2 separate regions of the Homo sapiens genome follow, and region 2 is linked to region 1. The links come from fine-mapping of genetic effects on gene expression. A gene starts in region 1. The other region holds a variant in brackets. All regions are shown on one strand. Distances are from middle to middle.

Region 1 (8,342 bases):
CAGAGAAGTTAACCAGTAATAACATTATAACATTGGCTTATCAAACTTATTTCATATTAGCATCCTTAGTATGGTATGCAAAAGACACTAATGAATAAAAAGTTTTGCTAGTAGGGATAGTTTTAAAATTAGATACCATAATTATTTTCAAGATATTGTTCAGATTGAAAATTATTTTTAACAAGATTTAAAACATTCTTTTAAAATGAATATATAAATATACTATACAACTATTAAATTTTCACTTCATATTGATATTTTAGTTATTAGTAATAAATTTTAACATATAATACAGTAGTATTATTAAAGTAGTATTAAATAAAGTAGTGATAAACTAAAGATGAACAAAGATGCAATTCTAAATGCAATTGTTATTCTCGATTTTTTTCCCAACTGGGAAATCAAGAAACAATAAACGGTATTGCCAAATTAGAGCACAAGGCCTAAAATGAATCATATTCAAGTAAAAAATAAGGATTGAGACTCCAAACAAGTGAATAAGAGAATAAAAGAGGTTCCATAAAAGACAACAGGTGTAATGATCTAATTTTTGAAACTGAAGGTGGAAAAGCATAATCAATAGGGAGTTATAAGCATTAGGTGAACTCATAAAATGAGCAAGTAACATTTGTACTAACAGGTAGTAGGAAGTCCAAATGAAAAGTGGCAAAAGATATTGAAGAAGCATTGTATAGGGATAAGTATAAAACAAGTCGAAGTCAGATTCTCTAAATAATGCAATTCATCTAAGAAAAAATATTTGTCTTATACCCAGGCATTTAGCAATAAAATAATTCTACTACTGCACCTAATAACAAAACAAAATTACAAGTGTGGATATCATAACTTACTGCTGATTTGGTTCAAAAATTAGCAACAAAAATCTTACCGTTTTAACCACAAAACCACAAAACTGGAAAAGTCTAATTATGAATCACATAATTCATACTTAACTATTAATGTATTTCCAGAGGAGTGGAAACATTGAGGAATGAAAAACAAAGACATTTTGGAAAGAATAAATAAAAATTACTCACTTTGGCTGAGAGATCAACGTCCACATCCTGTTTCTCCTCTCTATCCCGGCTAATTGGACAAGGAGGAAGGCTAGGGCTAAAAGCCATGAGGTCGGTCTTGGGCAACCCCTCTCCAGAGCACACCCTCTGCTGCCTCTGCTGCGAGTATGACCAGCTCCCCACCGCGCTGGAGCACACCAGCGTGGGCTTGCCCGGCCCACAGTCGCCTTCGGTTGGCGGCGCGGAGCACCGCAGAGCAGTATATAGCAGCAGTGTGAGCACCAACAGACTGGACACCGCGCAGATGGCGACGATCAAGTACACGTTGACATCCACCAGTGCAGCTTCCGGGCCCGTGGCGCCAGCGGACGCCTGGGACGAGGCCTTGGGTGCCTGGCCACTCTCCACCAGCGACACCAGCACAGTGGCCGTGGCGGTCAATGAGGGTTCACCGTGGTCCTTCACCAGCACCAGTAGGCGATGGCGCGGGGCGTCCACCTCGTCCAGGGCACGGGTCGTGCTGATCTCTCCCGTGTACAGCCCCACGCGAAACGGGATGCGCGCACCGCCGGTCCCAGGCTGCAGCTCATACGAAAGCCACGCGTTGTAGCCTGAGTCTGCATCCACTGCGCGCACCTTCGCTACCACGTGGCCCGCACCCACTGACCGCGGCACCAGCTCGCTCACTGCGCCACCGATGCCACCCACCCGAGGCATCAGCAGTGCCGGCGCGTTGTCGTTCTCGTCCAGCACGAACACCTGCAGCGTCACGTTGCTGCCCAGAGGCGGCACGCCCGCATCGCGCGCACTCACCTGGAACTGCAGCAGCTCTAGCTCCTCGTGGTCCAGCGGCTGCAGCGCGTACACCTTGCCGCTCTCCGCGTGTACCGACACGTAGCTCGACAGCGCGCGCTCCCCCACCCGCCGTTCCACCAGCGAGTAGGACACCAGGGCGTTCTCCTGCGCGTCCGCGTCCCGCGCAGACACCGTGAAGATGTGGCAGCCCGGCGGGTTGTTCTCCTTCACGAACACCGTGTACTCGGACTGCGAGAATGCCGGCGCATTGTCGTTCACGTCGGCCACCTCCACGGACACGCTGGCCGTGGCCCACAGTGAAGGCGAGCCCCCGTCCCGAGCAGTCACCACCAGCTCATAGGCCGACACGCTCTCGCGGTCCAGAGGGCTGTCCAGCACCAATGAGTAGTAATTCTTGAAGGTGGACACCAGCTTGAAGGGGACGTGGGGCGTCAGCGAGCAGGTGACCTGTCCATTGACTCCTGAGTCGCGGTCGGACACGCTGATCAGAGCGATGACTGTGCTAAGTGGAGAGTCTTCTAATACAGGTAAAGATAGTGATTGAATAACTAACTCAGGTACATTATCATTGATGTCCACAATTTCGAGTAGAACTGTGCAGTGATCTGACATTGGGGGATTTCCTTTATCCGTGGCTTCTACCTGGATTTCATATGACTTACTTTCCTCGAAATCTATGTTACCCTTTACACTGATTTGTCCATTGACTGGATCTAAATGGAATTTTGACAGAATATCTGCTGACATGTCCGTATTGAAAGAATACGCGATATCCTTATTTACTCCTTCATCCAAATCGGTGGCGTTAACGGTCACCACTAGGGTACCATTTGGTGCATTTTCGAGTAATCTGACTTTATAGATCGTCCTCTCAAACGCTGGGGCGTTGTCGTTTACATCTAAAACAGTGATCTTTAGTTGAGTCGTGCCAGTGAGCTCTGGTTTCCCACCATCAATTGCTGTTATTAGTAAATAATGCTTAGGAGTGTCCTCTCGATTTAAATTTTTTTTCAACACGAGTCCAAGGGATTTAATTTCCTCATCATTTCTTTTAACGTCCAAGGTAAAATATTCAGTGGAATCAAGACTGTAAGTCAACAACGAATTTGTTCCGATATCTGCATCTGATGCGCCCTCTAGCGAAAACCGAGAGCCAGGCTGTCGGGATTCGGAAATAAACAGATTCTTTACAGCCATTGGAAAAACTGGCGCGTTGTCATTAATGTCCTTCACTTCCACCTCCACATGGAAAACCTGCAGCGGCCTGTCCACGATCACCTCCAGGTGGATGCTGCACTCCGCGCTCCGCCCGCACAGTTCCTCGCGGTCTATCCGAGAATTCACAAACAAAATGCCATTCTGCAGATTTACCTCCAGAAGGTCCCCGTGTCTTTTGGACGCCACCCGGAACAGGCGCGGCACCAGCTCCGCCAGCTCCAGCCCCAGGTCCTGCGCGATGCGGCCCACGAAGGTGCCATGCTTGGCCTCCTCAGAGACGGAGTAGTGGAGCTGGCCGCTCCCCACCTCCGAGGCTGCGAGGAGCAGAAGAGAAAGCAGCAGGCACTGGGCTCCAGGATCTTCTCGCCAGGAGAACAACATTGCAAGTATTTTCCAAATATTAGATTGCCTTTACATTGATCCAAAGTTTAAAAATAATTCGAGTTCCTTATCTTCATTTCTTAAACTCCTCGGTGTTAAATTTTAGAGAGGATGAAGCAAAGCAGTATCTGAATACGTAATGCACGCTGTTATTTCTTTTGTGGAGAAAGACCTTGTGGTGGACAGCGACATCATGTGGCTAAACGTGTAAGTATTAAATATGTAAACGTATCTTCTTTTCCTTGTATGTCGTTTGAACTTTCCCAAAATTTCTAGTTTCAATTGTAATATCCTTCGGTCACTCCTCAAAGTCCTTATATTTTATCTAAATATTTCCTTAGAACTTTTATACTAATTCACTATCAATTGTGCTAATTCATGACATACACTAAAATATTGTGATTCCTGTTTTAACAGTGGACATCTATTGGAAATATTTCCCATGTGACAGCCACTTTTCTATTTGTCTTAATGGAATTATCCCGTTAAATTATCACAATCCTCTGAAATAAGTTTTAATATTATTCGCTTTTTATAAACACATAGAGGTTAAGTAAAACGATATTATCTCTTGGTACGATGGGATTTCAATCTGATTCAAGACAACTTACCATTAACCTCTTTACCACCCAAGTTACATTTTATAGAAAAATCAGATCCTTTCAGATTTATGATCATCAAAACATTGAGATGTTGAAGTATTTAAAAGTGTGTGTGTGCTGTATATATTAAAACATACATATATCTACTTTTATGTTATTACAGCAACTGTTAATTTCTTAAAATATGTACATTTATGGTTTTTTAAATTTGTAGAATGTCTGTAATTCCCTCCCATGCCCCTTTTTCAAGAACTATAGCCTCATCAACTGTCTTGACTGTAACTTACATAAAGATTTCAGAAGTCGGTCCTTTACAGAGAAATTCAAACAGGAAATTTGTTTCCTATTGTGGGAATGTGATTTGTATATTTGTTACACTCACATCACATCAATTAAGAATATATTAGGTTTAATTTTTCCACACTCTTTATGTATTTGAATTTACCTGTATATACTAAAATGTTAACAATATAAAGTAATTACGTTTTTGATGATCTCCACTCCTGATGAATTTCTAGATTCCAGTTTTTTTAAAAGTTGTTACTTGAAAGAATTGATTATTTAACTAAACAGTGAAGGGAGAAAAGTAACCTAGGAACATAAGCCAGTATTTACTCAACATATTTAACACTAAGCAATAAAACATTCTAAAGATATCTGTGAATTCAATGAGAAGCATGAATTCTCGCCGCATTTGGAAGTGGGGCAAAGAAAATTTATGGAAAGAGGTCAAATTTAGAGAAATAAAATAATGTACAAATTTTTGCTTATACCCAGACCATTTAAAAATGAAATCAAACATGTGATTTAAATATTTAGGGGAAAAGTTTTCATTTCAGCTTTTGTTTCCTGTGTATTCATGAAATGGAAGCCAGGACTGCAACTTACTCAGATTTTATCATTCATATTTAGAATAGGATAAATTATCAATTGTTGTTTTCATGAATAAATAAATTAATATTTTGAATTAACTTTTTCAAGCAAGATAAATAAAAATGTAAGTTAATGATATTTGTTAATATCAAACTTACATAATTTCTAAATGATTATATTGTGCTATATTATGAAGAAGTAAGTAAACATTTAAGCATTATTTCTGAAAAGCATGGACCTAAGAAATAATTATAGCTATTAATATTCCAGTTACCACTTTGCTGAATTTTTAAAGATGGTAGCTAGTTTGAAAATAAGAGATAAATTTAAAATTTTTAAACTTCATGGACTTCATAGTAATGAGATGCCTTTGACAACTTATTGTAATACTGCACTTTTCAGTACCTTTAAGAGTTATACTAATTGCAAAATGGAATGTCACATGAGAATTTATAGCAGAGTAGACTCCATACTGATTATTAAGAGATAAAGGTAATATTAAAGGAACTATGAGTTTAGAAGATTGAGCCATTTTGTAGATAAAGTATCAGTGAATAATTTCTACTACCACCTAGATGTCACTTAGACAACCAAGAAAAAATGTAAATAAGAATGTTTTGAAAAAACTTATAGAGCAACAGATTGTGACTCCTGGAGATTTGGATATATGTGAATATAATTTTAGAAGCTTATCATTTACCTATGGTAGAAACATAGTGGTCAAGTATTACTTGGAAATGGATATTCTGACCTAACTATGAAATGGCTAAAGGTAAGATCACTAGTGGAAGTTATTTCTATGATTTATCAATATGCACATATATTTAGAATAAACAGCAAATAACTAAGAACTAAATAGTAGAGGACCGTTTAAGACAGTTATTTTATTGCAATACATCTGCCTTTGGTTGGAAAAGCTAAAAAAGTTCTTTCCAAGTGTAACATTTACTTGTCGAGTTCAGTGTTATAATTACCCAAAATAAATGTTTCAAGTGAAAATGTAGTCATCCAAGACCAGGCCTCATCTTTTGGAAAAATTCCAATTTCATTAGGAATATGGATGCTTCCAGGTAAAATTGAGTGAGCTCACATTAATGGAAAATGTATTCCCACGCATAGAATTAGATGCCAGAAAAAAGTAGTCAATCTCTGCAGTGGGAGGCCTGCACACATTGGCCTAATGATAATGATACTGAAAGGATGATTTATCAACCATTAACATAAAGACTGGGTAGTCTCCACTTAAATGAAGAAAAAGTCCCACCACCTGAAAAACCCCAGTGTGATTTTTAAATGTTAATATTTTCAAATTAAACAAAATTGAGAGGGTCTCTTTTCTCAATACTCTCTATTTTTGCCTGATAACTCAAAAATGTTATCAGTGTGAAATCTTTATACCAAATAATGGGTTATTTTACTTATAAAAAACATACTTAAGATTAGCAGTTATTCCTAAGTGCTGTCATTTTGTTGTAACAACCTGTGCTACATACTTTTGGAAATTCTGGTGTTAAAATATCCACTCAGGCTGCTTTCAAATACAAATAAAAAGACCAGGTGCAGTGGCTCACTCCTGTAATCCCAGCACTTTGGGAGGCCTAGGAGGGTGGATCACTTGAGGCCAGGAGTTTGAGACCAGCCTGGCCAACATTTAGTTGAGACCAACCCCGTCTCTACTAAAAATAAAAAATTTAAAAAAGAAAATAGCCGGGCGTGGTGGTGGGCGCCTGTAATCCCAGTTACTAAGGAGGCTGAGGCAAGACAATCACTTGAACCCGGGTGGCAGAGGTTATAGTGAGCTGAGATCACACCACTGCACTCCAGCCTAGGTGACAGAGCAAGACTGTCTCAACAAAAACAAACAAACAAAAAAAAAATGTAGCTTATTAACTATTGCATAGACAAGGGCATTGTTGATCCAAAGAACAATCTAAGAAATGTCCAGGATATAGGTTATTCCAAACACTATCCGACAGATTGGATAGACAGTGTCAGTTGAAAATACGTATTATATAATCAAATTCTTTAATTTCTTCCGATTGTGATTTTCAATTTTTAAGAGAGAAAATATTTATGGGAAATGTTTAATTTACAAATTTTGCTGAGGTGTTTTTCAGTGTTTCATGGTCTATTACTTATGACTTAATGATGGAAGTGCCAAAATGTAAAAATAAGAAAACAGTTATGTAGATTGTTTAAATAAATTGTTCAGTAAATGCAATAAATTGATCTCTAATTCATATTCAAAATCGCACGGTAGGATGATATAAAATAAATGAAGAACTATGAATCTAAATAACTAGTAGAAATCATATAGAATTTTTTAAAAAGAACAATTTTAGAATTGGCAAGAAAAAGTAAAAGACTCACCTTTCCTACGTATTCTGATTCTGAGAGCTGTTTCTCTTCTGCGGAGTCTGGACCTTGAGATAAGCTAGGGCTGAAGGCCATGAGGTCCGTCTTGGGGGGGTCCTCCCCAGAGCACACCCTCTGCCGCCTCTGCTGCGAGTAAGACCAGCTCCCCACGGCGCTGGAGCACACCAGCGTGGGCTTTCCTGGCGCGCGCGCACCCTCGGTGGGTGGCACCGAGCACCGCAGCGCAGTGTACAGCAGCACCGTGAGCACCAACAGGCTGGATACCGCGCAGATGGCGATGATCAGGTACACGTTGACATCCACCAGCGTAGCCTCTGAGCCCGCGGCGCCCACCCACGCCCGCGACGAGGCCTTGGGTGCCTGGCCACTTTCCACCAACGACACTAACACGGTGGCCGTGGCTGTCAACGCTGGTTCGCCGTGGTCCTTCACCAGCACGAGTAGGCGGTGTCGAGGGGAGTCAGCCTCGTCTAGGGCACGTGTCGTGCTGATCTCACCCGTGTATAGCCCCACGCGGAACGGGATGCGAGCGCTGCCAGTACCCAGCTGAAGCTCGTACGAAAGCCACGCGTTGTAGCCTGAGTCAGCGTCCACTGCGCGCACCTTCGCCACCACGTGCCCTGCACCCACCGACCACGGCACCAGCTCACTCACTGCGCCAGCAGCGGTGCCAGCCCTAGGCGCCAACAGTGCCGGCGCGTTGTCGTTCTCGTCCAGCACGAACACCTGCAGCGTCACGTTGCTGCCCAGAGGCGGCACGCCCGCATCCCGCGCGCTCACCTGGAACTGCAGCAGCTCCACTTCCTCGTGGTCCAGCGGCTGCAGCGCGTACACCTTGCCGCTCTCCGCGTGCACCGAAACGTAGCTCGACAACGCGCGCTCGCCCACCCGCCGCTCCACCAGCGAGTAGGACACCAGCGCGTTCTCCTGCGCGTCCGCATCCCACGCTGACACCGTGAAGATGTGGCAGCCCGGCGGGTTGTTCTCCTTCACGAATACTGTGTACTCAGGCTGTGCGAACGCCGGCGCGTTGTCGTTCACGTCGGCCACCTCGATGGAC
Region 2 (8,342 bases), 370 kb before region 1:
AGCTCTGGGTATTTCCTGCCATCACTGCGTTTGCGGGTGAGGACCCGAAAATAGGAGTTGGGGCTGATTATATAGTTCTCAATATTGTTTTGGCCTATATCTAAGTCTTCAGCATTCTTCAGAGGAAACGCAGTCCCAGGAGGACTGCTCTCTGATACTTTCACCAACATTTGTTTGTCCAGAAATACTGGAGAGTGGTCGTTTATGTCTATTACTTGCAGCTCAGCTTGAAAAAACTCGAAGGGACTCTCTAGCAACACTTGGAAACGTAGCACACAGGGCTCTGTGTGACCGCACAGATCCTCACGGTCCAATTTCTCATTTAGCAACAAATCCGCGGTCTCCTGATTGAGCTGCAAATGTAGTTTGTTCCCTCTGGAAACAACCCTAACCCCCCGCCTGGAGAATTCCCTCTGCTCCAGACCCAGGTCCTTTGCTAAATTGGTGACAAAGGAGCTGCCCTCAGTTTCCTCCACCACAGAATAGCTTCTAGGTTCCGCCGCGCCCGCCAGAGATAAGCCCAAAAGGAGAAAGGAAAAAAGGACTTGCCTTTGTCTGCAAATGAGCTTCCCGCTGGCCTCCATTGTTCTTGCTGAATTCAGCTTCCTGGGAGGACGGTTCTGTGGGACTGTAAAGTCCCCAGTATCTGAGGCTGTGGTTTTCTACAGATACCTCAGAAATATGCCAGTGAGTAGTCCTCTCCAGAGGACCCAGCCGTCCTCCCTTTGGCATCCAAGCTCCCCGTGGACTTCCAGGTTCTGCTGCTTTTTGCCGGTTAATGGAGCTGCAGCTGCGGTTCTGGTTTGTGCCTTCTTATCCTGCAGCGCCACCACGGGTCCTCACAGGATCTTACATTTTGTGGGATGATAATAGATGTAATATTCCCAACTCTGCCTGTATGTACCCTGGGACTATGTAAAGTTACAACACCACGGTTAATATCGCCGGACGTTACTGAGCAGACAACTGCCCGAAGGAGAAATTGCGTTAGTCTTTCAACAATGCTAACTGAGTTTTGGGCAAAAAGGAAATATTTAGGTAACAGTCTAGCTTGGCAAAAAGAATTTCAAATATAATAGTAGTTAACATGGGCAACATTTAGATCTTTATAGTTTTATTTCCATGAACCATAGGAATAATTAGTAGCTGTGAACCTCGAACAAATTATTTAATCTCTCTGCTTTAATTTCCTCATCTGTAAAATGAGGATAATAATAGCACCTACCACATAGGGCTGTTGTGATTTCCCCACCTTACACATGAGGAAACTGATTCAAAGAGAGATTAAGCTTAAAAATAAACTATGTACCCGGTATATGGCAATTTGATACCACCAGGTAGGTGACTCTGCATAAATCCATTGCTATAACTAGAAAAACACCTCAAAATTACATGGTAGAATAGTACAGGAACATGACTATCTCAGGTAGAGAAGTTATGTCAAACAGTGAAGGTAAACAGGGAAAGGCTGGAGAGCTTGTCTAAATAGAGACAAAATGTGTAACAGCAGTGGTGATTTTATTTCTGGGGAAGCGTGTCCTTTTTTGTTACCTCTATTTCTCTTCTAATAGCATCAATTTTAAAAAGCTTTTATTTTGATATTTTTCATATCTCATAAAAGGAGAGGAGTAAAATTAACCTGCAATTACTCAGTACTAGCATCAACTATTATCAATGTCTTGCCATAATTCTTGACGCTATCCCTCCAACATCTTTACGTTCCAGACAAACTGAATTTTCACCCACAAATACTTCATTGTACATTTCTTTAAATGCATAATAACTTTAAGTGACTCTAAAAATACCCTTAAGTACAATGCCATTATTATACCTAAAAAATTCAGTTAATATTACTTAATACCCATCTATATTCAAACTCTTCCAAGTGTTTCAAAGTCATTGCTGATGTTTGAATGAAGATCCAGACAAGATCCACACATTACGTTTGATTGGTAGATCTCGTAAGATCTTTCCTACTGTAGACTTCTCTCCTCCTGTTTTTCATGCTATTTATTTGTTGGAGAAATTAGATAATTTTACCCTAAGACCATGAAAGCATTTTAAGATTTTACTGCTGTGAGGTTTTTTTGCCTCTAGATTCTATCCCACCAGTGATATATAGTAATACTACCTTTATTAGAGTTACCAGCACTAGTTTATAATATTTTCAGAATGCAACCATGCAAAAATTATCTAGATATTTTAAAAATAAAAATCAGTTGTAAATTTTTATAAAAAACAGTGCTTCTCCTTAACTTCCGAGAATTTCTAAAAATTTAATGATCATCTATGATTCTCTTTGATATTATGCATTTAAAACTAACTATTCTTTTTCTTAAATTTTCCTGATTCAATAGTGCACTATAATTAATAGAAAACTTTTAAAAACAAACTTTCAAATCAGGAAAATGTATTACAAATGTTAAGTATGGGTGACTGCAGAAAATCTACAATATGAAGAAAATAATTAACTAATGATGCAATCAAAATTATGTAATATTCCTACTCAGGACCATTAATCTTTTTTCTGGGAAATGAAAGTCATATGTTCTGAAGAAAGGAGAAGGCACAGGTTGCCCTTTCAATTTTGTTTTCCGCTTGAGTTTGGACAGATCAGAGCATTAGTAATAATAGTTGAAAATTGACCCAGAAAAGCAGGACTTTTGGTGTATAAGAAAATAAAACCATAGATAAATATGTACATTATTATTTCTAAATATAGAAAAGATTGGACAGCAGTATAAATATGATAAAAGACTTCTCCTTAATTAGGCAGAAACTTGCCAGGTGATATCTAATGACAGAAAACAGTATGGAATCGGAGCAGGGTCACTGACCCAGAGTCAGACAGATCTGGGATGGATGCTCAGTTTTGTCACTTATTAGTTAGTGGAACTTAGTGAACTTACTGAATCTCTAAGACCATCTATTTGTTCATTCCTAAAATACCATGCCTCATATGCTTCTTCTCAGATTAAAAGTGTTAAAATAGTGTATGATGCATTAAAAGCATTTTTTAAAAATGCTTAAAAAGATACTCTACAGTCTATGCTTCTGAGACTAGGGTAGGTACACTCATACAGCTTTCTAATCAACTCAGGAAGTCTCAGTAGAGATTGAAAACAATGGAAAGCAATTTAAAATATCTCAAACAAGACTTACATTTAATAGACTGTATATTAAGCATAATTGTTTGACATAAAACATTACACATATACATTTCATGCTTTGTGAAGGGTTCTTGATACTAAATCAGGATCCTATTTTATGTATAGAAATTTATTGCTTGACTTCAAGAGTACATATTTGAAATGATGTAAAGACACTCCCTTAAGGGAACCTCGCAATAAGTTCCTAATCAGAAACGTATTCACAGACGCGGATTTAGTTTACATTCTTTATCAGAAACCCAAATTATTCTGAAATGGGCGATTTTCTTCCACTTCCCTGCCTGTGCTCTGGGGTAGCAGGTTGGGGATAATTGGTTTCAGAAACTTGAACTCATTTGTCCCGGAGCCTCCAGTCAGGCACACCTCATACTGGTAGCTCTGGGATAGGGTCCCGGTGCCGCTCAAGTCCACCAGATGTCGTGGAAAGGGGCCCTCAGGCACCGAGCAGCGACCCACCGGGGCCGCCCTGCTCCTCCTGCACAGCCGCACCGCCACGAACAGGAGCACCGAGAGGAGGAAGAGCGAAGACACCGAGGCCAACGCCACCACCAGGTAGACGGTGAGCGAGTTGGCCTGGTCCGGGGCCGCCTCCGGGAGCCGCAGGTAGGGCTGGGAGAAGCCGTCCACCAGGAGCACGTGCAGCGTGGCGGTGGCCGAGCGCGGAGGCTCGCCATTGTCCTTGACCAGCACCACCAGCCTCTGCTTGGCTGCGTCGCGCTCGCTCAGCAGCCTGGCGGTACGCACCTCGCCATTGTGCGCCCACACGCCGAATAGCCCGGGCTCCGTGGCCTTGAGCAGCTGGTACGACAGCCAGGCGTTCTGGCCCGAGTCGCCGTCCACCGCCACCACCTTGGTCACCAGGTAGCCCGGCTCGGCCGCCCGGGGCAACGGCTCGGTGCAGGGCGCGGAGC[T/C]GTTCTGCAGCGGGTACAGCACGAAGGGCGAGTTGTCGTTGGCGTCCAGCACCAGCACGCGCACCAGCGCCTCGCTGCTCAGCGCGGGGGAGCCGCGGTCTGTGGCGCCCACGCGGAACTCGAACGCCTGCAGGGCCTCGTAGTCCAGGGACCTGAGGGCAAACAGGTGGCCGTTGTCCGCGTTGATGGAGACCAGGGAGGCGAGGGGCAGGTGCGGGTCCTGGGACGGCAGCAGGGAGTAGATGACCTGGGCGTTGGTGCCCGAGTCTCTGTCTGTGGCGCTGACACTGCCGATGGGCAGGGCGGGGCTGTTGTTCTCACGGACAAACAGGGTGTAGGAGGTTTGGGTGAAGGCGGGAGCGTTGTCATTGACGTCGGAGACCAGCACGGTTATGTTGTGCTCGGTTTTCAGCCTGGGTGTCCCCAAGTCGGTGACGGTGATGGTGATGTTGTACTCAGTGTTCCTCTCTCGATCCAAAGGTTTCTCTGTTACCAGAGTATAGAAGTTTTCGACAGATGGCTTCAGGATGAAGGGGACATCGTCCTGGATGGAGCACACTGTCTTTCCATTGTTCCCGGAATCTCTGTCTCTAATCCTAAAAACAGCCACGACTGTCTCGGGTGAGTTTTCTGCAATTGGGCTAGTAAGTGAAGACAGGAGCAGCTCGGGTCGATTATCGTTTATATCTGTTACATCAACCACTACAGTGCATTTTCCAGAAAGCCCGCCGCCGTCTTTGGCCTGAATAGTTAATGTGTAAGTTTGAATTGCCTCATAGTCCAATTGCGCTTTAAGATGAAGACTGCCAGATGTTGGATTGATTTGAAACGTTTTGAGAATTCTTTCAGTGGCGTAAGAAAATGCATAGGCTATTTCCCCATTACTTCCGGTATCTAAATCTCTGGCTGACACGGAGACAACCATGGAACCAACGGGGCTATTTTCGGGCACCTGCACCTTGTAGAGCGACCGCACAAAATCAGGGGCGTTGTCATTTACGTCTAGAACCAGAATGCGCACGAGGGCGGTCCCTGATCTTGGAGGAGAGCCGCCGTCTAAAGCGGTGAGGGTTAAACTGAACTCTGGTATCTCTTCCCGATCCAGCACTTGATTCAGCACCAATTCGGGATAGATATTCCCCTCCCCGCTATCATGGACATTAATATGGAAATAGGCATTGGGGCTGATGGTGTAGTTACTCAGGCTGTTGGTTCCAACATCTGAATCCTGTGCACTCTCTAGGAGAAATGCCGCCCCTGGAGTGGTACTTTCTAATATTTTCAAGGAAATCTCTCTGTCTAGAAATACTGGAGCGTGATCATTGATGTCTCTGACCCATAGTTCAGCACGGAAAATCTGAAAAGGTTTTTCCAATAACAACTGGAAAGGCAGCACACAGGGCTCTCTGGGGCCACACAGTTCCTCTCGGTCCAATTTCTCATTTAGAAGTAGATCACCAGTAAGCGAACTGAGCAGTAAAATTTGCATGTTCTGGTCTGAAACAATTCTAGTTCCCCGGGCTCTCAGTTCCCCTACCCCTAACCCTAGGTCTTTTGCCAAGTTGGTAAGAAAGGTGCCTCTCTCGGTTTCCTCCGCCACAAAATACCGAAGCGGTTCGGCGCCAGCCCAAGACATTCCCAGAAATACACAAAGAAATAAGACTTGCCTTTTCTGCACAGCACGCTCCACTCTGGCCTCCATTCTTCTTTGGATCAGTCTTTCAAAATGACTTTCACTCAGCCTCCAGCGGCTCTCACAAATGGCAGCAGCGGAATCCTTTGAAATGAGCTGAATAATAGCAATGTTTGTGGGGAAGGATCCTCATTTTACCCCAATTCCTATTACCACTGTTTCCTTTCCTATGCTTTTCTCTTCAGATTGCCTCTTTGCTCTGGAATCTGTAACATCCTTTCTTTGTGAAATTATTTTTCTCTCTCTCTTTTTAGCCAGCAGCGCCACCTTGCGTTTTGTGGATGTTATTCCCGTTATCAAGACTAGAACAAAAAGATGGCGGATTGAAGGAATTCTGCAACAAGAATGATTTGTCCCCGGTATCTTTGCTGTTTCATTCCATCTTTATCCTCAAATGGTCACAGTAATGCTAGTAAGTAATAGCTGATGTCGTTTTCCCCTGTGATAATCTGGATTCGTAGAAGAATTAATTTATAGTCTTCTTAAATCTAGGAGCATGAAACTAAACTCTGACTCCCCACCGAAATCCTAAGAAAATCTCCTATTTTAAAAATGGATAGTAAAAATATATATGAGAAAATGAAACCTCCTCCTTGAAGTCAACAAATATTGGTTGGGGACATTTTATTTATTTGTAAAGTATTTAACAATAATAATGTGAATATGGCAGAATAATTGACCCTTTTCCCAATTTCTTGTGAATTAAACAATTATTCCACTTTCCAGGTCTTAACTCTTTACCTGTGATATTTCTTGGAACACTTTATGCCTCCCCCAAACCCAACCTTCATCCTTCACCTGATTTAAGTATTACATAAGAAATTATTGTTCCTCTATAATTTCAGTGACTAGAATCTCCAATGTCCAATGAATACTCTTAAAATTAGTAGTAGCAAGTTGGTCAATCTTGCATTTGTGGAAGTGCTTCTAGCATTTCATCTTCAACTATGATGGTTGATCTCAATTTGGGGTAAATATTCCTTTTTTGAATCAATAAAGTTTTCTTTTTATTCTTTCATATTTTGAAGTGATTTTTGATAGCTGTTGAAATAATACATTTATTCTTTAGTTTCTAAATTACTGAGTTATTGATATAAATGACATTTAACCATAATGTATTATTGTTTTAGTGCACAGATAGATATGATGTGTCAACATGGTTTTAGGATTTTTCTAGTTAATGTTGTTTACCTAGTGCGTGTTTGCCTTTTATGGCCTTGGTATTAAACTATTATACTGGCATCATAGAATGTGTTAGGGAGCTTTTTATCTATTTTATACAATAGTTTTAATAATTATATTATTATATGTTTCTACATGCTTAATTCCAGCTTGTCTTTTAAACTGGTTGGGTTTGGTGACTTCACTTGCAGTAGATCAGTGACTACCATTTACATTTTACCTTTGGTTATTAATCTGTTCAGGTTTTGTATTTTTAAGTAACTTGCATTTTATTTTGAAAATCATTTTATCTAGTTTGCAAATTTCTTGGAATTGTTTTCATTGCGTTATTTACCTTTAATTGTATCCCTATTTTTATTAGTGATGTTTAGCATTTTAACTCCTTTTTATTCTTGGTGAGACTTGCAAGAGCTCTACTTTACTGATATTTTGAAATGCATTTTTTTCAAAATAATATATGACCTTGGTCCAAAATTAAATAGCACTAAGAGGCTTGTTCTGCCCTTTTCCTCCTCACTTTTCTTAGTTCCCCTTCTAAGAGGTAGCCATTTTAAAACTCTTTTAGTTATCTCTTCAGTCACTAATCTGTTTTCTGATATATTTTGATTAATTAATTTTAGAAATTATCAATTGACTGTTTATTATGTTAGATTACATTTTAGGTATTTTAGATTTTCTTTTACTTACCATATATTGGGAACATTATTGTGTATTAATTATGTTTTCTTTTTCAATTTTTTTGTGATTTTAATAATTATCTTGCCTTTTCATTTACTTGATTTTTTTTATCCCTATCACTTATTCATCCCACAGATACAATTGCCTGTCAGTGCAATTTTCCCCATAGTCATTTCCATTCCTCCTGAGACTTCAATTTTTCTTTAAATTGGGTGGTTGCTTTCTGTGCCTACTGCACAGCTATCATTCTGGATTTTTTTCTTTGCTGTCATTCTTGGAATTCTTTGCCTTTTATTCTGGATGTGTTTGCTATTTCTGGGATTTTATAACTTGCCCTTTTTCAGTTTACTCTATGGCATTACTAGAACACATCCTCCAATAGGTTCATATGATTGAAAAGATGATACAATGTTAAGAGGATTGCTAATGATATCCTTCAAAATCTCTGTCTCTTGAGTCAAACAGCTCCTTACTGGACTAGTTGTTCATTATGCTCAGTTGTCATCCTTGGATCATCCTTCAGCATCACCTGGAGATTCATTTCACTTCTGTCCTGTTTTGGATCTTCTAGTTTCTGTTTCTTCTGTCTTCTCCTGTCTTGAATTAGGTTCTCATTTTGATAGATACCTTCCAGTAGTTTTCGGAGAAGGGTGTTTCAGAGTTAAATGTTTTTGTGATCTTAAATGTACTAAGATGTCTTTATTCTAC

Direction of the effects. Alleles are on the strand shown, and positions count from the first base shown. SD is a standard deviation of normalised expression in the study named.
In carriers of allele C in region 2, the expression in monocytes of the gene that starts at base 3,572 in region 1 tends to be higher than with T alone (large effect, 1.8 SD a copy in Fairfax 2014).

Evidence for each region. PIP is the estimated chance that this variant, and not a neighbour inherited with it, causes the effect.
Region 2: its variant is fine-mapped to the expression of PCDHA3 in monocytes (Fairfax 2014, PIP 0.95).

The regions. Positions count from the first base shown.
Region 1 is chr5:140,796,287-140,804,628 of GRCh38, reverse strand. PCDHA3 (protocadherin alpha 3) reads right to left here and starts at 3,572. Exons shown (of 4, transcript NM_018906.3): 1 at 1,038-3,572. The coding sequence starts at 3,431. The region is part of intron 1 of PCDHA1 (protocadherin alpha 1); the gene reads right to left. It overlaps PCDHA2 (protocadherin alpha 2), which reads right to left. Exons shown (of 4, transcript NM_018905.3): 1 at 7,277-8,342. It also overlaps PCDHA@.
Region 2 is chr5:141,170,277-141,178,618 of GRCh38, reverse strand. It overlaps PCDHB7 (protocadherin beta 7), which reads right to left and starts at 5,975. Exons shown (of 1, transcript NM_018940.4): 1 at 2,236-5,975. The coding sequence starts at 5,783. The coding sequence ends at 3,402. PCDHB8 (protocadherin beta 8) reads right to left here and starts at 829. Exons shown (of 1, transcript NM_019120.5): 1 at 1-829. The coding sequence starts at 584. It also overlaps PCDHB@. RefSeq lists an enhancer at 3,375-4,005. The variant T/C (reference allele first, on the strand shown) is at 4,082.